Regions from separate parts of the Homo sapiens genome. Here all the other regions are linked to region 1. The links come from fine-mapping of genetic effects on gene expression. A gene starts in region 1. Each other region holds a variant in brackets. All regions are shown on one strand. Distances are between the middles of the regions.

Region 1 (8,282 bases):
TGCTGCTACTGTCATATCCACTCTGTGGCCCCAAACTCCAGGCCCTCATCCACCCCAGCTTTGGCCACTACACCCCTATTTGGCTCATCTCAAATAGGAGGCCTGCATGTTATGTGGACAAGCTGATAATTTCCTTAGAGCTTAGAATAAGTGTGAGGAGCCCCCATGCCAGTCTCTGGAAGCAGCTCTACAGACCTCACATGGTGATGGGTTAACCTGGAAAAGTGACTACAACAGAGTATGGAAATCAAGAGGTGTTACCTGCCTGCCCTGCCACTTCTGGGCCTCTTCTCACCTTCCAGGAGCTAGGTACAGGAGCTGGTTTCAGATTCATAATATTACAATGGATAATGGTGATTACATTTGTTGTTGTCAAGATTACAAAATCTGATAGTAACTATTTTTGACTACTCATTTTAAATGTACTAAGACAAACACCAACATGATCTAAAGTCAGCCATCTAAATAGTGATTACTCCTTAAAAATCAACTTAATAACCAAATCATTGAATTAACCAAAGTTATAAGACCAAGATGCATCCTTACCAAGTGTCCCAGGAGGTCTCCATATTTAAATTCCCATACTGGGGCTTGTAATCGAAAAACTTCAATGTCATCATCACCCTCCATAACTGGGATAGGTGAGCCAGTTGGACAGAAAGTATACTTAGCTTGACAATAAGGATCAGGTTTTGGACGGAAGTCAAAGCGCCTAATAAAGAAAAAGAAACCATCTACTTAGATTCTAAAATGAATCTGATTCTTCTCACGTCTTTTAGAATCCAGTAACATTTTTAGGGGACCATTCAAAGGTCGGACCATAGTTAATAAATATAAACACACATTTTGTTATCTTGTGAACAAACTTCCAATAATGTTTTTAATAGCAAATGATAAACTAAAAGCACTCTGATAAATACGGGCTTCCCTGTTCCCTGATCCCACTGTGAAAATTTTGAAGACAGGAATTTTGTCTTAAAATTTTTATAGCTCCAGATCATAGTAGACATTTGCAAATGTTTACAGAATAAATGAACATTTTTCCAATGTGTTCAATTTTACAAACAGTCCATACATTAAGATTATTCAGATAATTATGAGTAACAGAATACATTTTATATTTACTTACGAATTAACATTCATTCAACCAATATTTATTGAGGCTCCACTACATATATAGTGAACTATAGTAAGAAGGAGGGAAACAAAAATTAAAACACTGTTCCCTTTCTCATGGAACTGTGGGTGGGAGCTGGAAAGACACTGAACAAGTAATGAGTGTGGTATGTGCTAGACTAAAGGAATGAGTCCTATGGGCACACAGGAAGGACAAATCATTGTTAACCAGGTATGGGATGAATGGGGTGGGGAGGGCAAAGAAAGAGATGAAGGCCGGGCCTAGGTTTTTAATGTAGTTGATTAGAAGGTTAAGACAGAAAGGCAGAGGAAATGTTAAGTATTGTAAGACAAGCCTGGCACATTTGGTCTCCGGTAGGTACGGAAGACTGGATTTCAGGCCTCGACGCAGGAATGGAGACGGAAGAGACTGGCAGGGGCTGTCATTTTGTCACTAGGAGAATGTGCATGGAATTCCCTGCCTTATAATTGGGGAGGGCTAAACTTAAAGGATGTTAAGTAGCAGATCTGACAGGACTGAATTTGCTATAAAGTAAACCTTATTTCACGAATTAAAAGAGGGTATGGAGAGAGGCCAAATAAAACATGAGAGATCAGTTAGAAGGTGACCTCAACAATGCAGGCAAGAAAAGAAGACCGGAGAAGGCCACAGCAATAGGACTCGAGGGGCACTGCAGCTGAATTCAGCTCAACAGACACACTGGTCACCTATAATCTGGCACTGGGAAAGAAAGAAGTGGTGGCGACAACAGCTTCTATCTAAGAATCCTAGATCCCCAAGGTTGTAGCCAGATCTAACAAATCTTAACAAATCAACAAAAATTTCTATTTTAACTTAAGAAGTTAAAATCTTTATGCTAATCGAAACTATTAACGACGCTCCCAAAAGTTTCTGCTACTTGGGTACAGTGTTTTATAGGCACTTACCTGGTTTAAACAAATACATAATCACATGGAGATTTCACTGACACAGCAAAATCTATTTTAGTTCAAAGGTAATTTAAGTGTGAACTTAATAAACTTAAATATTATATTCAATTGAGGGAATTAGATGGGAGCACGTACTTAATATCTGAGACTTAAAAAAAAAATCCACTAAAAAGCCATAGTCAACACCTTGCCCTAATGTTAAATCAAATCGTTTGGATTTACAATTCTTGTTCTATTGAGTAATTTTGACTTCTTACAAACATTTTATTATTAACATTTTCCAGAAAACTAGCTTCAACCACAAACTTCTCTTTCCACGTAGTATATCACACAAAACAAAAAAGTGTTGTAAACATTTCAGTGAGCAGAATACACTATCTAGGTTTGACAACAGCTGGCATTTTACTAGATTTAATCCTTCCAGCAAACCTATGAGGTACGTGCTACCACTATTCCTATTTTTTGACTCAGGGCATGTGGGCACAGAGATTCTGAGTAACTTTCCCAAGATCCCTGGTGATGACAGAGCCAGATTTGACCCGCAGCAGGCAGAACTCCTTCCCACTCATACTGTCATACAAAATAGCTGTTTTTTTCAGGTTTGTTGTGTGCAGTTTTAGCTGTTGATTACTTATGCTAGTAAGTTAAAATTATGTCCAATGATGCTTTTGGTTTAAAGAAAAATAGCTGTTTTCAAAAACTGCTGGTCTTTCTCCTGCCTGATGTTGACACCATGTTTTCTTTCTCTGTGTTTAGCTATCTCTGACCGCCGGAGGCTGTGTCTTCTCTGTCAAAGGCTGGAATCGACCTCCCAGGTGTGCGGGCTCTGTCCCCGACTTAGGACCGGCGTCCTACCTCCAGGCTGAAGACTGGACAAAAGCGGTGACAATCTTCCCGGTCTAACCAGGACTGCAGGAGACGGGGATTCCCGGGATGCGCGACTTTTGAGGGCAAAACTGGGAAGTCCCAATAAGGACTTCGGATCAGGTTCTGATCAGGTTCAAACCAGAGCGAGTTGGTCGCCCAGTAAATTGTACCAAATGTTCCGCGGTAATAACTAACGACAGTGCATGATATAAATAAATGCGATAGACAGTGTTTTTAAACTACTCAAGAAATCAGCTACTTGTACCCAGAAGTCCCTCCATTAAATAACATTACTCTCCTTTTCTTCTTCCACGATTCAGGACTGTCCTGAGTCTGCCGCAAGTGACCAGAGGGGACGAAAGGTCCCAGGGCTGCACGTAACGAGCGGCTGCGACTCCCCAGTCCTCAACTTTGCTCTCAAGTGCGCTCCGAGCGTCACCCGGCGCTGTCCCCGCACCATCTCGTGACCCGACACAAACCACGGTGAGCAGGGGTCCCCGCCCCAGCACCCCATCCCCCATCGTCAACGCCGACCCCAACCCCGACAGTGCGCGCGCCGCCGCACTCACTTGTAGGGCACCGGCCAGTGGCGCCGGGAGGGGATGCCCGAGACCCGGGACCAGCCCGGAACCACCGCGAGCCAAAGCAGCGCCAGGGCCCAGCACCAGGAAGCGCGTCCCCGAGCCGCGCCCGCGCCCCGCCGCATCTCGGCGCCCTGTGCCGTGTCTACCTCCTGCGCCATCAGGCTGCACCCAGTACTTCCGGAGCCTCTCGAGGCCTGCGACGCCGGTGGGAGGAGCATGCGCGGAGCCGCCAGTCCGGGACGCGGGGCGCCTTGCCCCTGCGCGTCAGCTCCAGAGCTTGGCCCCAAGCGCAGGTTCCGGCGCATGACACCTCCCCGCGCCCGGCCCGCGGCGGCTTCCACACTTTGCAGTCCAGGAAGGTGCTTTGGTCTGGCTCCCAGGAGAATTCGATCCAGACCTGGGGCGTCATCTTTTATGAATTGACCTGTCCTTGCCCAAAAGCCACCACCAAAACCAAAAATCTGTCACCGGGGCTCCTCCCAACACCGAACTTTTACCCCATCCCACAGGGCCCACGCTAGGTGTCAACAAACGTTGAGTGAACGAGAATGTGTATTTGGAGCTGAGGGTGCAGGGCTGGGGGTGCAGTGAGGAAGAAGGGACAATAGTGCGGAAATGGCTCGTCGTCACCCGACCTGGGCCAGTCATAACAGTGGTTAACACTGACAATATGTGGTCCCTGCCACTCCCCAAGTGCTTAGTGGGGAAATGACTCGTCCTCACTCGACCTGGGCCAGTGATAACAGTGGTTAACACCGACAATATGTGGTCCCTGCCACTACCCGAGTGCTGCCGAATCTACCCCCTCCCCTACCGCTCCCCTCACAGGCAGGTGTTCCTTGCTTGGATCTGTCACTTCACTGGAAAGAAGTTTCTGCATCACCTTCTCTTCTTTGACTCTTCAACTAGGTCAAGAAAACAATGGCATCAATTACCCGGCTTTTGAGGAGCCTCTTGTGGCATGCTTTGCTGTTAGGCACAAATACTGACTTAAGTCTATACGTAGTACATTCAGGGCCTTGCCATAGTCACTTGTTTTTACCAGACAGCAGTTTTGCAGGGCCTTAGACCGGGACTTTCCAATTCCTTCACTTCACCCACAACTCGTGTGAAGCATCATAATGTTTGTAAGCCTATGGGAATAAGCAAGGTGGCTTCGGTAGCCGGAGATGACCACCACAATCCATTGGAGGATATGTAGCTTGTGGGGGTGTCACTGACTTCCTTGGGCCCTCCAGGTCTCTTGATTACATATGGGACTCAGTACCCTGCCCCAAACACACACTCCTTTGCCCACTTGCTGCTCCAGGTTTGGGGGTTTTGCGGAGGTTCAGGCTGGGCTGCATTTTACCATACGTTTGTCTAAGCGTTTTGATAGCTACCTAGCTCTCCTCCGTATACTATGGCCAAATTCAAAATTACCAAGGCTAAACTGGCTTCTTCAAAGACCTGCCCAAGATAAGAGGGGGAAGCATTCTAGCCCTGAGAGCTGAAATGTAATGTCTGATTTGAAGGGCACCTGAAGGATTCCGTGGCCCCACACTTGAGCCTAGCTTAAAAAGCAATCAGCAGGAACAGCTTTAAAAAAAAAAAAAAACATTGATTAGAGCATTTACAAATCCTGGAACCATACACAGTATGATGTATGAGGGCCACAGTAGATGGCCTCAACAACCAGAGCCTCCGTGGCTGCCTGGAGAGCGGTGATGCAGGCAGCAGCTTCATGAGATATTTGCAGTTTAATCCAGTCATCTGCAAGCACAATCTGCCCATCAGATTGGACTTTCTTGGAGGCAAAGAGAAGCAACTGCAGTGGGGTGACTAAAGTCATGCCTTTAGCAGAGATGGCTCGAGTTCAAATCTTTTCACCAAATACAAAGAAGGGAGATAGGTACTTCATGTCTTGGCTACTAAAAGGACAATTAACAGTAGATGGTTCCAGGTTCCATCTACTGTTAGTAGAGGGCCACAGTAGAACCTCCCATTCAGTTCAGGACTTCCCAGAGCTACAAAAACAAATTCAGGTTGACCTTGTTCAGTGGTGGAGGCCTCTGGTCTTGCTTCTGCCATCTGTCTCTTCATTCTGTGTGCAGGGAGCTTTCATGGTAAGAAAGCACTTCCTAGTATTGGTTTTTATTTTTTATTTTTTTGGAGACGGAGTCTCCTTCTGTCACCCAGCCTGGAGTGCAGTGATGTGATTTCGGCTCACTGCAACCTCCGCCTCCCGGGTTCAAGCAATTCTCCTGCCTCAGCCTCCCTAGTGGCTGGGTACAAGTGTGTGCCAGTTGTAATTTTTTTTTTTTTTTTTGGTAGAGACGAGGTTTCACCATGTTGGCCAGGCTGGTCTCGAACTCCTGACCTCAAGTAATCCACCTGCCTCGGCCTCCAAAAGTGCTGGGATTACAGGCTGTAGTCACCATGCCTGGCCCTAGTATTGGTCTTAACTCAGCCTCCTGGTAGCTCCCATTCTTCTGGTCTGGTTTTGCCTTGGATGGGAACACTGATTAAACCCCATTCTTTTTGTCTATGACCCCACACCCCAAGCTGAAGGTGCTCATAGATTATCGCTGGTCGATACTGGTTGCTTCCCCCTTGTCCATGGCTTTTAAATCTTGAGGGCCCACAGACAGAACTAATTTCAATCTAATTGGTTTCCCTTGGATCCTTGCCCATTCAGCCTAAGACTGCCTGGACCACATGGCATCTCCCCAGATAGAGTGATAGGATTCTGGGGAAGTGTGGAGTTGAGATGAAATTTAAATAAGCAGTATTTTGGTAGACTCAAAGCAAAACAAGGCTGTATGTCAATGATGGTAGTGGCTGCTCCAGACGGCCTGCTGCTGCCATCAACACACAGGCTCTAGGTCTAGACTGCAAAGTGGATGAAGGGCCTATTTCCTTGGAGACTATGAAGTTAAAATAGCGATGGAGTTTTGTGTCTGGAAACCCCTTATCAGAAGCTTGACATCTGGGTTGTAAATTGAGGCCAATTCTCTGTGTGGAATGACTGAGGTCCTTCAAGCAAAGGTGGGATATTTTATTGTTACTGATGTAATTTCAAACACGAAGTTGTCTCTAATCTATGATTTTAGAGAACAAAGTTTCTTAGTGAATAAGAAAGCAGGAAGCCAGGCAAGGTGGCATGTACCTGAAGTTCTAGCTACTCAGGAGGCTTGAACCCAGGACTTTGAGGCTATAGTGAGCTATAATCGTGCCTGTGAATAGCCACTGCACTTCAGCCTGGGTAACATAATGAGATACTGTCTCTAAGAAAAAATTTTTTTTTCGTGTAATACTTTATTTTCCATTGTATTAAATGAAAGCCAGGAAAATATCAAGTTATTTTTAAAGACAAATCTTTACTCCTTAAAGAAAAATACAAACTGTGGTATTTCTAAGATAGATCGTTACATTTTACATAATATAAACAAAATCACTAATGCATCTATATGCTTGGTTTCCTTAAGCTACAGTGAACCACAGAATGGGTTAAAATGCATTTACTTTTTGGTGGGAAATAAACATTGGAAAAAAATGTCACACATAGCATGGCTTTTTTTTTCTTACTGTCTACACACAGGAACTGACATAACCAAGCCTTAACAGATGCCACCTTCTCTTCCTTGTCCAAAGTAGCCAGTTCCATAGGCCCCCCTACCACCTCCTCGCTGGAATCCCCCAGATCATCTGTAGCCTCTACTAGGCCCTCTGTAATCTCCTCCAGAGTTGCCTCTATAGCCACCTCAGGAAACTTCTCTATAGCCTCCACCAACACCTGCACCATATCCTGCCCGACAGGAGCTGGAGCTGCCACCATAGCCTCCGCTACGATAGCCTCCACTGCTATAGCCACTGCCATAGCCTTCACTGCCATAACTAGAACCTCCCCTTCTATATCCGCTTCCATTGTCATATTGGGCCATCTTAGGAGGACCTGGACCATCTCCATACCATGTACTGCCAATCATAAGGTTGATATCAGCAGCTGAGGGTCTAGAGATTTGACGGATCATGTTCAGTATACTTTCATTTACGGGGTCCAACTGGCTGATGATAGCAGGTTGTTTGGTTACTTCAACAACCAGAGCCTCAGTGGCTGCCTGGAGAGCGGTGATGCAGGCAGCAGCTTCATGAGATATTTGCAGTTTAATCCAGTCATCTGCAAGCACAATCTGCCCATCAGATTGGACTTTCTTGGAGGCAAAGAGAAGCAACTGTAGTGGGGTGACTAAAGTCATGCCTTTAGCAGAGATGGCTCGAGTTCGAATCTTTTCACCAAATGCAAAGAAGGGAGATGGGTACTTCATGTCTTGGCTACTAAAAGGACAATTAACAGATGATTTGTGGATAAGTGCATTACACCCTTCAGTGGTGAGAATCTTTGTCTTTTCCTTATGATAGCATACATTGGGGTACACACCAAAGGCCAGGAAGAGAGATAACAACATCCAAATTATTATCTGGTCCAGTGTTAGTAAACACTTGTGTCACCAAACAATCTTCTGGAAACCCAGAATTAATCAGAATCTCTTTGAGCTGAACTTTGACTTCCCAAGTCATTCTTAGTGTAGCCATATGAAGTCTTTTGTGCGCACAAAAACGTATTTCTGCTTCTTCTCCACCCATTCTAGTATCATCTCCGGCTTGGAATACTGATAAAAGGGCTACATGATGAGAAAATCCGTTTCCAGCAAAATTTCAATGGTTGTAGCCCAGCCACTTTCCTTCATTTATAAAAGGCTCTGGAAAGCAGGTAGCAGCAGG
Region 2 (8,282 bases), 66 kb before region 1:
GTGCTTAAATGAAAGCCATTATTATTATTGAATAATTAAATTTTATACTCTCCCTTTCAGAGTGATAAATAAGCATATTTTTCCCTGTTCTTTAATGAAATAATAGGTCTTCAAAGAAGAAGAAGAAGCTATAAAGGTTGACCTTCATGAAGGTTGTGGTAGAACCAAATTGTTCTGGTTGATGGCACTGGCAGATTCTAAAACAATGAAGGCAATGGTGGAATTCCGAGAACACACAGGTAAAAGGTTTAAAGATTGAGCCATGCCTTTAAAACCCACAAAAAAAGATTAAACCGTGCCAACTGATTAAACTGTGAATAATTTTGAGTGATATTCTGATGTTTAATTATGACATCATTGATCTATATATTTACTAAATATATAGAGTGTTCTATGGTGAAGAGAGCATTAGACCAAAAGTCAAGAAACCTGATTTGCCACTAACTAGCTGTGTGGTGTCGAGCAAGTCACTTAACCTCTGGAACTCATTGACTTCATTTATAAAGTGAGAGGATCACAACTAATGGGGCTCCATAGATAAAATACATTTCTATTGATAATTCCCTTCTAGTTCTGCTAGTTGTTGCCCCACAATAAAAATTGCTGCACTAGATGATCACTAAGATCTCTATTTATTATAAGGTTGTATGATTTTATGATATTTAGAGGTTTTTGTAGACCTAATGCTTCTGAAGGTGTTGTGAATGGTACTGTTTCCATTGATAGCAATAAAATAATTAACAAAAATGAATAGACATAAAACAAAAGGTAACCTATGTATGTTAAATGTATTTTTATCTCTAAAACATAGTTTTCATTTTGCTGCTTTTCTAAAGTAAATCTTGTATATTCCTAGTTCAAAGTTATGTTGAATCTTACAAATTCTCAGTTTTCAGCACATCTGCAGTCTGCCATTTGACTGACACGAACTTCCAGTGTTGGAGTTAGGTGTAAATCCGAATCAATTTAATTCTAGGGTGACTTTGCATGCTGCAAGAGCATGACCTTCTTTTCTCATAGTTGATTTCTTCCTCCTATAATCTGTCAGTGCTGTATACTGCATTAATAAATGTTCTAATGTCAAACCATCCTTGTAAACCATCCTTTTTAAATAGATTTTTCTGTAAATATTGCTGAATTCAATATATTGATATTAATTATAGTTAGATTTTTATATCTGTGTTTAAAAATCAGCTTGGTCTGTAATTTTCAAATCTTCACGTTCTTTTTCTTATTGCTCTGTTCTTGTTTTATTGATTCTGTTTCTTCTTTAAGTATTTCAAACATATTTAAATTCCTTTTCAAATTGCAGAGTTCCTGAGGTAGGAATTCTGTTTTTCAAGTTTCATACTCTGATGATAGGCTTTATACCATGCCTTATAATTTTGTTATATATAGTTAAAGATTTCCCTAACTTCTGTGTATTTTTATTTAATTTTTGGTTATCATATTTTTTATGGTATTGTGCATTTGGAGTCAGGGGCTTGTAACAGCTGCTCAGTCTGGTAACTTGACTAGAAGTCTAGTCTGTTTCTTTCACTGAAAAAAAATATTAGTCGAGAGTGTATTTGGCTTCAGATAGGTCTTTAATTTCTTTTTTTGTGTGTCATTATTTACTTTATAATTAGGACAACTTAGAAACCTTCCGTTCTAAAACTGTCAGGCTGATTTCCCAAGGATAGCAACTTATACAAACCTAGTTTGCTTTTTAAAATTTAGTTCTGTTAACATATCTAGAAAACATCCATAAGAAGGATTTTTATTTTTCTGCTTGAACCTAGGCAAACCCACCACGAGTAGCTCAGAAGCATGTCGCTTCTGTGGTTCCAGGAGTGGAACAGAGTTATCTGCTGTTGGCAGTGTTTGTTCTGATGCAGATTGCCAGGTGAGTATATAGTGACACAGGCCATCCCATTGTCCATGTTCCCCTGTGACACCTTTACTTCATACAGAAAAGAGTTTTAGCTCAGCGTCACTCCAGCTTCCTAAATGAGTGTATTACCTATGTGAAGCATCAAATGCCTTACCAAAGTTGAAGAATGGGTCAAATAAGGCTCTCAAGCCCAAACCACACTCTTTTTGTATGTTTCTCAGTTACCATGATCATATGTATTTAATATCTACTTTTGTACTAGAAACAGTTAAAAATTTATGAACTGTATTTCCTTTATCTCTTACAGACATTATTCACTTATTTCCTTAAAATACATTTTCAACATCTAAGAGTTCTTTAATCCTGAACATATATAAACATATTCTATGTTGTCCAAATGTTTTTGGTTTCTCAATTAATAAGAATGTGGATATGCTCAGAGAGTCAAAGGTACCTTTTTAAAAAAAAAAAAAATCTGCATTTTGGTGATGCGGAGAGTGGTGACTGGGAAATTATACATTGGGGAACTTTTTTTATTTTTTATTTTTTTGAGACGGAGTCTGGCTGTGTCGCCCAGGCTGGAGTACAGTGGCACGATCTCGGCTCACTGCAACCTCCGCCTCCCGGGTTCAAGCGATTCTCCTGCCTCAGCTTCCTAAGTAGCTGGGATTACAGGCGCGCGCCACCATGCCTGGTTAATTTTTGTATTTTTAGTAGAGATGGGGTTTCACCATATTGGTCAGGCTGGTCTCAAACTCCTGATCTCGTGATCTGCCCACCTCAGCCTCCCAAAGTGCTGGGATTACAGGTGTAAGCCACGACTCCCAGCCAGGAACTTTTTGCTTTATAGCTGTGCATGATGACAAATATGAAATTATAATTCACTTATCAGCATTCCCTTTATAGAGAGTGGCATTTTTTAAAAATCGCATCAAAAAAAAAAAACTTTGTTAAGAAGCCTAATTTATATTCAAACAAAGATTAGAAATAACTTTACTTTGTTGTTACTTGGCCTGCATAGATACTTCCTGTGGGAAAGTAATCTTTGGAAATTTATATAATAAGGAAAATTACCAGAATGTGTGCTTTTTTACATACTTGTGTAACATTGTAATTCATCTTTAACAGGAATACGCTAAGATAGCCTGTAGTAAGACGCATCCTTGTGGCCATCCATGCGGGGGTGTTAAAAACGAAGAGCACTGTCTGCCCTGTCTACACGGCTGTGACAAAAGTGCCACAAGCCTGAAGCAAGACGCCGATGACATGTGCATGATATGTTTCACCGAAGCGCTCTCGGCAGCACCAGCCATTCAGGTTGCCTCAGCTTTTAAAGTATTGAATGTATCCAGACATTAAGATGGGGAATATATTTGTCAAATAAACATTGATTGAGGCCGGGCGCAGTGGCTCATGCCTGTAATCCCAGCACTTTGGGAGGCCGAGGCAGGTGGATCACGAGGTCAGGAGATCGAGACCATCCTGGCTAACACAGTGAGACCCCGTCTCTACTACAAAAATACAAAAAAATTAGCTGGGCGTGGTGGTGGGTGCCTGTAGTCCCAGCTACTCAGGAGGCTGAGTCAGGAGAATGGCATGAAGCCAGGAGACGGAGCTTGCAGTGATCTGAGATGGCACCACTGCACTGCAGCCTGGTGACAGAGCGAGACTCTGTCTCAAAAAAAAAAAAAAAAAAAAAAGCAGTTGATTGAAATCTTTTTTTATATCACTAGGCAGAAGTGTTCTTTTAATCTATACATGTACCAGGCTAATGAGGAGCAAATTCTGCCTCTTTATGCTGTGCTTTCTATGTTGCATGCTCAGCTTTAATTTGTGATTTGTGTGAACCTCTGTAATCAACAGAATGTATAAAATATTCAGAAGCCAGGGGGAAATAATTAGATTATCCCCCAGTAGCTAAGGCTCTTCTTAATTTCCAAAATCCAGAATGGTATTTTTACAACATTATATAATTGATCTATACATAATGATACATACTTCTATACATACACAAGTTACTGTGCACTAAATAGGTTTTTTTAACTTTTGCCCATTGCTTATATTTTCAGTTCTCATGATTCCAAGATAATAATAGTCTCCAAAAGAAAATCATAAGTCAGTAATTTCTTCTTCTTTCTGTGAGATACAAAATTGAATAATTTTACTTTTTTTCCTAACCTAGCTTACTTTATATAAGTGGCATGAATGTTAAAAAGCAGGAGAAGCCAAAGGCCTAGTTAATAGTATCCCAATTTACTGTAATGAAATTTAGTAAATAATAATGTCCCAATTTCAGTGTCCCAATGAATTTTCATTATAGTAAATTTCTTGATTTTTCTCTTACCTGCTTTAAGTAGTGCCTTGCATTAAATAATCTCCCAGTCACTCAACTGTTTATCATTATTATATTTGCTTATGTCCTTTTCTTTTGTTTATTTAAGCTGGATTGTAGTCACATATTCCACTTACAGTGCTGTCGGCGAGTATTAGAAAATCGATGGCTTGGCCCAAGGATAACATTTGGATTTATATCTTGTCCCATTTGCAAGGTATGGAAAGAATCTGAAATCATGTACTTTCTTTTTCTTTTGTTCTTTCTTTTCACCTTTCAAAATAAACATATGTCAGTATCTCTTGGTTTTACCCACCAGCCCCTAGCAGTTTCTTCCCTTCTC[A/C]TTCATGTGGAACCTGAGAATATAATCTCTCTGTTATAATGCATCTCAAAACAGTAATTGTCCATTTAAAACTGATTACATTCTGTTAAACATATTACATGAGAAAGTTCATTTAAACATCGTGATGCATTAAAGGGCATGCATCTCTACTCTCAGACCACTAGAGAGCTCAGTTGACATAACATGACAACGGCTACCAAAAAGAAGAATGATCCTCTGGTGTTTGTAGAAACTGATACCTGCCATTAAAGAGTGAAATTGGAACCCTCAGTACCACTAGAACAGATTCTTTTAGAGCTTAGTTAAAACAAGGAGAAAGTTCTTGGCATTTTGACACATTTGTACAAAGGTAGTCAGCAAGTAGGAAGTTGTTTTGGCAAGCTAATAATGATTAACAAAAAGCTGTTTTTGAAGAATGTGGCAGTACTTTCCCTATTAATTCATCGCCCCTTTTTGTTCTATTAAGCTCTCCCTATTTTCTTATCTTCGTATTTGCAAACTAATATAAAGGGTAGAATGTGGAAAGACTTAGCACAATCATTGTCTAGATAGACTGAGGAATAATCAAAAAGATTGTAGTATTTTGCTCTCCCCTATCATATGGTGCTACAAATATTAATAGATACATGAAAGTTTTACAGCAAATACTACCTGTTCACTTCTGTCACCTGGCGTTCTGCCTTCCCCTCAAGGAAGCAAAACACACACACACACACACACACACACACACACACACACACACACACACACACACACACACCAAACACAGAGCGTGTCTTATTTGTGGCAACAAGGTAACTTTGTTTCCACAATAGCTAGGGCAACAGGAGATATATTTCAGACGCAGGAAATATAAAGCTAATAAAATGGAATTTTCATGCTCTGTGTCCCATTTGCCCCATTTTCCCTGCTCTTGGAAAAATATGGGCTTCTAAAGAATTTACAGAATGTTTTTCAAATGACATTTTATTTAGAATATGTGTGCTGTCTGGTTATCTTCTAGCACAATGCTTGGCACTTAGGTGCATGCTAAGTGTTTGTTGAGTTGGTTAATAAATGATTCTGCTAAAGAGTGTTCATTTTTTATTGCAGAACAAAATTAATCACATAGTACTAAAAGACCTACTTGATCCAATAAAAGAACTCTATGAGGATGTCAGAAGAAAAGCCTTAATGAGATTGGAATATGAAGGTCTGCATAAGAGTGAAGCTATCACAACTCCTGGTGTGAGGTTTTATAATGACCCAGCTGGCTATGCAATGAATAGATATGCATATTATGTGTGCTACAAATGCAGAAAGGTATGCTATAAATTATACTGAGAAGTTTTAAAAACTAGAGCTTACCTATATGATTAAGAATTCAAATTGTACAGTGATATCTAATTATTCCATCTTAAGCCTGAAGTTAAAAATAAGATAGCTTGGTACAATGTTTCCCAATGTTTCCAGTAAAACTTGTTTACTTAACTTGTTTGGGGATTCTTTATTTAACCTGAACAAACTTTTCGAAACATGCAGTATTTCTGTATACAAGCTGCTTCCCATCAGTAATAACCTGTTGGCCCAGGGCAATTCCTTCTCGAATAAACTTCTCTCACTTGACTCTGCTAACCATTCCTTCCTTAAAACCCTTAATTCCTTGGCTTCCAGGACAACACACTCTTTTTCTGTCCTCCTTCCTTTCTAGTCATTTATCTTTAACTACTTCTTCTTTTTTTTTTTTTAACCTACCCCTTACATATTTGTTTTCCTAGAGCTCCATTCTTGCCTACTTAATAAATACTTCCTTACCTTGGGTGACCTCTTTTACATCTATACCTTCACCTACCATGTATATGTTTATGACCCCCCAAAATTTTTGAGATTTAGTTACAAATAACCAACTGCGTACCAGACATTTGGATCTCTCACACATACTTCAGAGTTCACATGTCAGGTATTATATTCATCAATCTTGGCCGGGCACAGTGGCTCACACCTGTAATCCCAGCACTTTGGGAGGCCAAGGTGGGCAGATTTCTTGAGCTCTGGAGTTTGAGACCACCCAGGGCAAGATGGCAAAACCCCATCTCTACAAGAAATACAAAAATTAGACAGGTAGGTTGGCATCTGCCTGTAGTCCCAGCTACTTGGGGGACTGAGGCAGGGGAATCGCTTGAGTCCAGGGGGTTGAGGCTGCAATGAGCTGTGTTTGTGCCACTGCAGTCCAGCCTGGGTGACATAGTGAGACCCTGTCTCAAAAAAAAAAAAAAAGACTTTACCAATCTCTGATCTTTATTGACAAAATCCTATCAATTCTGTCTCCAGATCTCTCTTGAGTCCTTTTTTCTTTCCATTACATCTCCAGCAAACCTAATCATTTTCCTTGGTAATTACAGTAGCCTTCTTCCTGAGCTCGGGTGTAGAACCCCTAATTCCTCTGTTGCATCCCTTACACTGCTGCTAATTAATACTTCTAGATCTAAAATCTAACTGGATCACTCTTCTACTTATAATACGGTAGCCCAGTCTCCCTCTCCAGTCTCATCTCCCAAGATGCTACCATTTGCTCTCCATTTGCTGCCACATACCAAATAACTTGCATTTCCCAAACTCAGCCCTGTCTGCTCACCCACTGACACCCCCATGCCATTGCACAGGCCATTGGTGTTTAAAGGATGCTCTTCTCTACCTCCCCCTGCATATTTTACTCTGACCTGCCACCCCCAACCCCATACACACATGCTGTCATGCAGAGCCTAATCTGTCTTGTCATACCTCGGGCTTCAGCTCAGGTTTCACCTCCTCTGTAACATACCCCCATCTCACTTCCATCAACACCACCACCACATGATTTTGGTATCTTGCAGGCATCTAGCATAGAACTCCCTATTCTGCATTATGACTACTGGACCACTTATCTCTCTGCCCTACTTGATAAGTTCCATGAGGACAAAGAGTATGTTTTTTCATTTTTCTATCTCTAGTACTTTGCACTTACTAGATACAAAGTTAAGTGGAGAATGAATAAATGAGTGAAAGAATGACTACATGAGAAAGGTGCATAGTCTCCCAATGTAGCAAAAAGAAAATACAGAGGATGAATGGATGTCTAAGTAGAGAGATGATAGCCAGAAAGGCAGATAAATACATGCACACCCAATAGTGCACATTTATGAAGCTTGTATTGTTACAAATAATAAAATAGTATTTCTGTGTGTTTCATGTACTAAACATTATAAATGAATATTGTGCTATTACAGGGTAGCAGTCAAATGCTTAGGAAGCCAAGCAGAGGATATAGAAAAGTGAAACAGCTGGAGTAAGCAGTCCCCAAGACAAACCGAAATACTTCCAGGGTTAGGTTTAGCTGGTGAACGACCGTTTATAACCTCTGCATCAATGGATCCTGTCTTTGGACCTGTTTTTCTAGTATAGATAATAGATTTATATTGACTCAGTTTGTTTATTCCCAATCCGGACATAGCTTTTTGACTATGAGACAATCAGTGCATGCAAATTGTCCCAGTTCCTTGGCCTCACTTAATCTCTGCCCAGGGCAAATACAGATAAATCACCCATCATGATATTTTTATTTATTCATGATAATTTTATTTATTCAAATTCTATTTATGCAAGTGTCTGTATTGGAAACTGTTGAGTTCCTGCCTACTGCATAACTTTATAACTATGAGCAGAATTCTGAACAGAATTATCAAATTTGCCTTTTTTTTTTTTTTGAGACGGGGTCT
Region 3 (8,000 bases), 160 kb before region 1:
CTAGGAATTTCCTATTCTGTGGGTTAAAAGAAGGAACAGTGGGGTACGTGGAGAAAATGATTTCTCCGTAAAGGCCTATCTGAAAGTATCTGCATGTTGAAAAATTTTATGTAATTAAAGTTTTATTTTTAAGAATATATAAATATTCTTTTTTACTTAACAGGTGTGCAAAACCCATTCTGGAATTCTTGGAAAGGGTCTAGCTCTTTCTCATTCACCAACTATATTAGAAGCACTTGAGGGAAATTTACCACTCCAAATCCAAAGCAATGAACAGTCTTTTCTGGATGATTTTATTGCCTGTGTCCCAGGATCAAGTGGTGGAAGGCTTGCAAGGTAAATGTACTTTAAGTTACTTACTTTATTTTAGGGCTTTCATCTTTCTTCATTTCTGAAAGAGGGGAGTCATTAGAATATTAAAATACTACTTTAAAAAAGTCTGGTTTATGTATGTTTAACTTGCTGAAATATAAAATGATAGTTAATATTTTTGTTTGGCGGTTGTTTGTTTGTTTGTTTTTGAGAGAGAGGGTCTCACTGTGTTGCCCAGGCTGGAGTGCAGTGGCATGATCTCAGCTCACTGCAACCTCCACTTCCTGGACTCAAGCGATTCTTGTGCCTCAGCCTCCCAGGTAGCTGGGATTACAGATATGCCACCACACCCGGCTATTTTTCTTTTTTGTATTTTTTGTAGAAACAGAGTTTCCCCATGTTGCCCAGGCTGGAATAGTTATGATAGTATATGATAAGACCAGGTGCAATGGCTCATGCCTGTAATCCCAGCACTTTAGGAGGCTGAGGTAAGTGGATTGCTAGAGCATAGGAGTTGAAGACAAGTCTGGCCAACATGGTGAAATCCTGTGTCTACAAAAAATACAAAAATTAGCCAGGCATGGTGGCACACTCCTGTAGTCCCAGCTACTTGGAGGCTGAGGTGGAAGGATTGCTCAAACCCTGGAGGCAGAGGTTGCTTTGATTGTGCCAGTGCAATCCATGGTGAAACCCTGTCTCTGCAAAAAATACAAAAATTAGCCAAGCATGGTGGCACACACCTGTAGTCCCAGCTTCTTGGAGGCTGAGGTGGGAGGATTGCTCAAACCCTAGAGGCGGAGGTTGCTGTGATTGTGCCACTGCAACCAGCTTGGGCAACAGAGCAAGACCCTATCTCAAAAAAAAATTAACTAATTAAATTAAATTTATTATAGTTGTTAATTGATTATTTTTGTTGCTTTTTGTTTTTAGGATGAAAAGGGAAAAAAATATGCTGGCCTGCATGATTTTACTAGTAAAAAAAAAATCCCAACTTTTTTCTGGTTTTAATTTTAAAATTGCAGAGATTACTCTTTAGTTTTTAAAAATCACAAAATAGTGATTGGAGAGGAATGTCAAATCACTTAAGTCAGCCTCACTACTATACTATGCAGACGTTTTTATGTAATGCATGGTAGAATTACTTATTACTCAGCTCACAGGACAACTTGAATGTGTAGATCACAGAATGAATTCAGGAATGAACATCACAAATTACACAACATTGATGCATTTTAGGTGGAAAGCAAGGTAATGAGGAAGATAGTTGAGAAACTGTGAAAAAAAGATGGGCAGTACACCTTGAACCTGGCTGCTGTCAGGCAAGTAGAGGGCCATTTCTACCCCTGCTTTTACAGAGACACTGCTTTTTCCAGGCTTGCAGGATGGCAGAGTAAGGTGGAGCTCCTTCAGAGAGAATGAGCCTGCTCAGGACTTCAAATTATGCACAACCTACATTCGTGTTCTTGGTGATTTTAAATTAGCCATAGTTAAAATTTCAAGTTTCCTGGTTTTAAAAAGTATTTTTATACTGTATTTAAATATCAGAAATCTCCTGTGCTTAGGCATGTTTTTTAAATGAATTTGTCCTTAACAGTTTCTGAGGGAGACACTCATGATTATCACTGAGTTGGAAATGAAGATAATGTTTTAGCATTTTGTTTGATACAAGTTTTGTTCATTTGGCTTAATTTTATATTAATTGTTGAAGATGCTGATCAGTGTTTGGGGTTTTGTTTATTTGTTTTTCATTACTGTTAGGTGGCTTCAGCCAGATTCATATGCGGATCCTCAGAAAACATCTTTGATCCTGAATAAGGATGATATTCGTTGTGGTTGGCCTACCACCATAACTGTTCAAACAAAAGACCAGTATGGGGATGTGGTACATGTTCCCAATATGAAGGTAATTATAACTGGATTAAATTAGCAGACATCTATATACTGGCTGCAATGACTGATAAAATTTTAGAAATGCCAAGTGCTGAGAGTCCATTTGTTCTACCCTCTTTATATAAAGGGTGATGCTGAAAGTTTGTTTAAATGACTTGTTTATATTAATTAGTCCCCAAGTGTCCAAGTTACACCTGTTTTTTTTGTGAGTTTGTTCTTTACATTTTGCTACCTGTTACGGGGACTCAAAGGAGGGATAAGAAAGTATCCATCTAAAGAGTGCTAGACACATACAGTGAAGCCCCTCAATATGTATTGATTGAATAAATGCATGAAAGAATACATTTTTAAATTTTGTGTATAGTTTTGAAAGACTCAAGTACGTTCTGTGTTTGGTATTACTGAAACCACATTTTAAAAATAACACTCATTAAGTTAGAAATATATGAGTTTAGATTGTAAAAGAATGAGGAATTGAAATAGTTGTATACCATATTGATGAATATAGAGTTTTTAGGATACCTCTTACCTGAAATATTAATAATAATGTTTCAGAGCATATTATACATAATTATTTGTGATTTAATCTGTTAATATGAATATCTCATTTAAAACTTTTATTTCTGAAAAAATTATATTGAATAAAATTTTATATAGGCAGTCCCCAGCCCTTTCCTCCTTCAAAGTTGTCTTATAGAGTGATTGGTTGTTTGAAGCTTAGAGCTGATTAAGCCACAAAATCCTTTTTGCTCATTGGGTAGCTAATTTTGCCTCAATATTATTTTCAGTAGAACTATTTCAACTACTTCATGCATTCTTTCATTTATAGCGTGAAGAAGTACAATGCCAATGTAGCATCTTACCTAAGTAAAAAATAAGAACACATTGCTTACATGACTTAAGACCAGTAAATA[A/G]AACTGTATGGAAAAGGTTTCAACCCTGATACTAAATCAAAATCAGTCTTTTAGCAGTATCTTTCAAATATTTGGCCATGATCCATAGTCAGAATTTTTATTATAACCCAAAGATATAAATATAATATATGATGGAATAGTGTCTATGTAATAGCATATGTTAAGTACATATAATATACTTTATATATACATACACACATACATACATAATATGCTATACTCTGATGCTTTCTCTATCTTATTTTTTAAGGCAAGTCATACCCTTCACAAACTGAGTTCATGCCTACTTGGAATTATTCTATACAATGCAAAAAGCATCACAAATTATAAGAAAAAAAGATTTAAAAATAAAGTTATCCTGATAGTGATATGAAAAAAATTACTACTCAAGGACAGATTTTTGATCACAGTACAATACACGTTAAGATGTTGAAGGGCTTGTATATTGTGTATTCACTGATGAATTTCTCAATGTAGTGAGTTGTTAAATCCAATCTTTGAACCCTCAAGATTAAGTTTTTTATTCATGTGACAACATTCTAATACCATGTTCATACTGTTACGCTTCTGATATTTCTTTAGTTGTATTTTCTTTCTTGTGTTTTCTCCTTTGCACCTTTTATTATCTCTTTTGATATCTGGTATGTTTATATCTTGCATTTGAAAGTCAGACTTCATCTTTTTTTCTTTTCATCTTAGAGTTCTTTTTTTAACCATATGATGGATCTGCTTTTTTTTTTCCTCTCTTCTTCCCTCTCCTCTTTCCCTTTCACCTCCTTCTCCTTTTTCCTTCTTTTCTTCCTCTTCTTTCTCCTCCATATATTTGCTTCTCCTACTATCTTTCCTTGACTTAAACCTCTTACTCAGTGTGCTCTAAATTCATGTCAGATTTATCCAATTTAGAAACTTTCTAGAAAACCACTCTAAATACTATCTAGAAGAAGTGATTTGTGCTCCTACTGATGTTTAATGTATTAATATCATATTATATTAGCTGGAAACAAAATTAATTTAACCTATTTTACTTTCAGCCTATTAGTATATGAAGTCTTAGGAGCACTTTAGACTGTTCATAAATTGTTAAAATCTTTATGCAGTAATAGCTAATTATTTGAAGCATAAAAGTTGATTTGCAGCTAATATTTCAATGAGTTCCAAAATGCTTTCAAAAGCAACAAGTGTTATTGTTATAATTTTTTACTTATAAAATGACTGTTCCCTACCTGTGATAAAATGAGTTAGAACTAAACACACATATTGTACCAATGTCAATTTCCTGGTTTTGGTTCAGTACCATCAGTGTCTGACAGTGTTGGATAAAATGTAGCCATTGGGGGAACCTGAGTGAAGGGTACATAGGACATTTCATCTATTTTTGAAACTTCCTGTGAATTAAAAAAAAAAGTTTATTTTAAGGAAATCTTATTTATTGACAAGAGAAAGTCACATAGGAAATACAAGAATAACTTTTTTTTTAAGTAACACAGTTTGTAAAAGAAAGCAGAATGGTTATTCTATAATGTCTCAGTTTTCTTAAAGTATAAAATTATTCAGTGATTTACTTCAAGGTTCATGGTGCATACACACATAGACTCTAATGATAATTTATTAAATACTTAGGGTAAATATAGTTGCTTACAGAAAGGTTAAATTGAAATAGTATGTATAAAAATAGTGTCTGTAATTTAATATCAAATATGTTTGAGACAGGAGAGTTCCCTTGACCCCTTTGTGGGACTTGGGACGTGGGTGTCGTGTGGCTCATTTACTTGACTGCTGCACTCAAACCCCTTGCAGGATGGCGAGCACTGAGGCAAGCAGGTGCCAGGGCCCAGGCAAGCACCTCTGGGCTCCAGCCCCACAGCAGCATCTAGGAGTGTGTCACAATTAATGCTTTTTTAGCTTTGTTGTCTGTGGATGGCTAAGTGTTAAACAGCTCAGTGAAGAATCAGCATGACAGCCTTTTTGGGTTCCTGCACCCAGTGTGTCCTGAATTCTTGTCTGGCATTCAGGAAGAATCAGGTCATATGAATGGTTTGAAACGCGATGAATGCGTGAATACAGCAGATTTTTTTTTTTTTTTTTTTTTTTTGAGACAGAGTCTCGCTCTGTCGCCCAGGCTGGAGTACAGTGGCACGATTTCAGCTCACTGCAAGCTCCGCTTCCTGGGTTCACTCCATTCTCCTGCCTCAGCCTCCCGAGTAGCTGAGACTACAGGCACCCGCCACCACGCCTGGCTAATTTTTTGTATTTTTAGTAGAGACGGGGTTTCACCGTGTTAGCCAGGATGGTCTCGATCTCCTGACCTTGTGATTCGCCCGCCTCAGACTCCAAAAGTGCTGGGATTACAGGCGTGAGCCACCGCGCCCAGCCACGGCGGATTTTATCAAACGGTGGAAGTGGCTCTCAGCAGAAGGGGAGCTAGAAAGGGCATGGTGTGAGAAGAAGGTGATATTTCCCTGAAGCCCAGCCGTCTCCAGCCATGCTCCTCTCCTAAGTGGTGCCATCTGAGGTTAAGCCGCGCGTCTCATCAGTTGCTGCTTCTCCTCTTGGTATTCGCCACTTGTCTCTTTGCTAGCTGAAGTCTGGGATTTATAGGGGCATAGGGTAGGGGGGCAGGGCTGGCCAAAAAGGCAACATTTAGGCGGAATACAAGGATAAACTGTTCTCATTTAGGGTCATGGTTTCCAGGCTTGAGAGTGGGGCCTTTGCCAGGGAACCACCTTCTCCTATCCAGTATATCCCTGACTCCTGTCTGTATCATCTTCAGATTTTTTAATTGTTTAAAGTTTAAAGCTTTTTATGCTGGCACATGTGTTTGAGTTGAAATTTTAACCATATACCTGTAAACTGCCATTTTTTAAATATAAGAATGGGTTTTTAATATTTCCAGGGGTTTGTGTCAGTCCAAATACTGATCTCTTGTAACCTCACCTGAAGATAGTGGTCACTTAATGGAACATATTTGTCACCTGTGCCTAACATTATATAAATAGCGAAAGTCTCAAACTACTGATTCCATAGAATCGCGTTGTTAAGAACAATAAACATAAAGACAGTCTGTAGTTCTGAGGTAGCTCTCAATTACTTAAAAATACTATCACTTTTATCTCTGCACTTTTTCTATTTCTGTGACAATTCTGTTGAATTACCTGTTCTTGCCAACCACAAAACTATTGTCTGTAGGGAGCAGCAGAAACTTTGAGTAAAGCTCAGAATGGTGATACCTGCTGAAGAACTAAAGTGGTATTCAAATTGTGTGTACATTTGTGGTTGCCTAGGGGTCAAGTGTTTTTCTGCCAATGCATAAACAAATAAAAACAATGTTTTCTTATAATTTCTGGGAAATATTTCTAAAAAGTATTTTTCAGAAATAGTAGTTAGTAGATGAAATAGTAGAGTTAGTAGATCAAAGATAGTCCCGTTTTGTTGAAGAAATTGAGTTGCAAAGTTATAATTCCTGGAAAATATATCTAAAAGGTATTTTTATAAGACAATTTGTATTTTCAGTATATTAACATCCATTAACGAATCTGTTTTTTGCATCTATACTGTAGAGTTAGTGGACGAAAGATAGTCCCATTTTATTCTTAAAGAAAGTGAGTTGCAAAGTTTAATTATTTAATAGATTGCTTAAATCAAATGTTGATGTTGGTGATAGGGCTGTCTAATAATATTCTTTCTTCACCCGAGTAAAGAAACATATTTGGGCTTTAGGTATAAGATTTGTTTTATTAAGTGTTAATTTTTGAAACTTCTATAAATAGAGTACATTTTCTTCTGTAGAACAGTGCAGCTCAAACTGACATTAGTGCTTTAAAATGTGCTGAGATTGTGGGAAAGCATTTACACTTGCATTACCTGATAAAATAATTTGTTAGTCCCTGCAATAACTTAATGTAGATTCATTCCACTATCTTTTCCTGTACTTTATTAGTGGTGCATTTGTTTTTATGTTTTGATATCTCTGATTATGTATTCCAAAACTATGAGGCCTTGTTTTTACACCGTGTTCATGGTTCATATTGTCAACCCATCTTGAGGTCATTTGAACTCTTTTCAATAAGCCTTTGAAGGGAATGCCAGAGACAGACCAATGCTAACATAAAGTATACATAATTATGAGTTTATAATAGTAAGTTGCTTATTTTGATGTCAGTGACAATTAAATAATAATGGTATTTGGTTTCTATAATACCATGTTTAGGTGGAAGTGAAAGCTGTCCCTGTTTCTCAGAAAAAAATGTCTTTACAACAAGATCAAGCAAAGAAACCTCAAAGGATTCCTGGCAGTCCTGCAGTAACAGCTGCATCTTCTAATACTGACATGACTTATGGAGGGCTGGCATCACCAAAGCTAGATGTTTCATATGAACCAATGATAGTGAAGGAAGCTCGATATATTGCCATAACAATGATGAAGGTAATTTATTTTACTTATCAGAAAAATTTTAGTTTTCAGCATTTGTTTATTTAACCAACATTTCAGTGATTCAGATGCAGACATGAAATTGTAAGTCCAAAGAGCATTTGATGGATATTAAATTTGCAGCAACACTTATTAAGATGATGTTATCCTGTCTTCAGAGAGGATTTTCATTGGTTTTTGGCAGATGTCCAGAGGGGATCACCAATTACAGATCAAGTTAATCGAATCAGAGATACAGATGGATTAGGCTGAGTTTCAGTTCCTGTGAAAGTACTTGTCTACTTCTGACCAGGAACAGTGGCCCACACCTATAATCCCAGGGCTTTGGGAGGCCAAGGAGGGAACATCACTTGAGGCCAAGAGTTCGAGACCAGCCTCAGTAATGTAGTGAGACCCCATCTCTACAAAAAAATAAAAATAAAATAAAATTTCTAAGTACTTGTCTATTTGCAGTT

Which allele goes with the higher level. Positions count from the first base shown, and alleles are read on the strand shown. Sizes are in standard deviations (SD) of each study's normalised expression. Not every link is listed here.
For the expression in monocytes of the gene that starts at base 3,694 in region 1, C is the low allele of the variant in region 2 and A is the other (moderate effect, 0.52 SD a copy in Fairfax 2014).

What was found. PIP is the estimated chance that this variant, and not a neighbour inherited with it, causes the effect.
Region 2: its variant is the best candidate, but not a certain one, in a credible set for the expression of CLN5 in monocytes (Fairfax 2014, PIP 0.55).
Region 3: its variant is the best candidate, but not a certain one, in a credible set for the expression of CLN5 in blood mononuclear cells (TOPMed, PIP 0.65).

What each region holds. Positions count from the first base shown.
Region 1 is chr13:76,987,493-76,995,774 of GRCh38, reverse strand. It overlaps CLN5 (CLN5 lysosomal BMP synthase), which reads right to left and starts at 3,694. Exons shown (of 4, transcript NM_006493.4): 1 at 3,504-3,694; 2 at 547-712. The coding sequence starts at 3,676. It also overlaps the pseudogene DHX9P1. RefSeq lists an enhancer at 2,190-3,389 and silencers at 3,411-3,650, 4,111-4,180, 4,271-4,360.
Region 2 is chr13:77,053,126-77,061,407 of GRCh38, reverse strand. It overlaps MYCBP2 (MYC binding protein 2), which reads left to right. Exons shown (of 83, transcript NM_015057.5): 76 at 107-239; 77 at 1,782-1,885; 78 at 3,002-3,190; 79 at 4,315-4,422; 80 at 5,641-5,850. Among named protein-coding and RNA genes, the nearest start is that of MYCBP2-AS1, 18 kb to the left of the region's middle. The variant A/C (reference allele first, on the strand shown) is at 4,549.
Region 3 is chr13:77,150,273-77,158,272 of GRCh38, reverse strand. MYCBP2 (MYC binding protein 2) reads left to right here. Exons shown (of 83, transcript NM_015057.5): 45 at 164-336; 46 at 2,071-2,215; 47 at 7,324-7,539. Among named protein-coding and RNA genes, the nearest start is that of MYCBP2-AS2, 73 kb to the right of the region's middle. The variant A/G (reference allele first, on the strand shown) is at 3,117.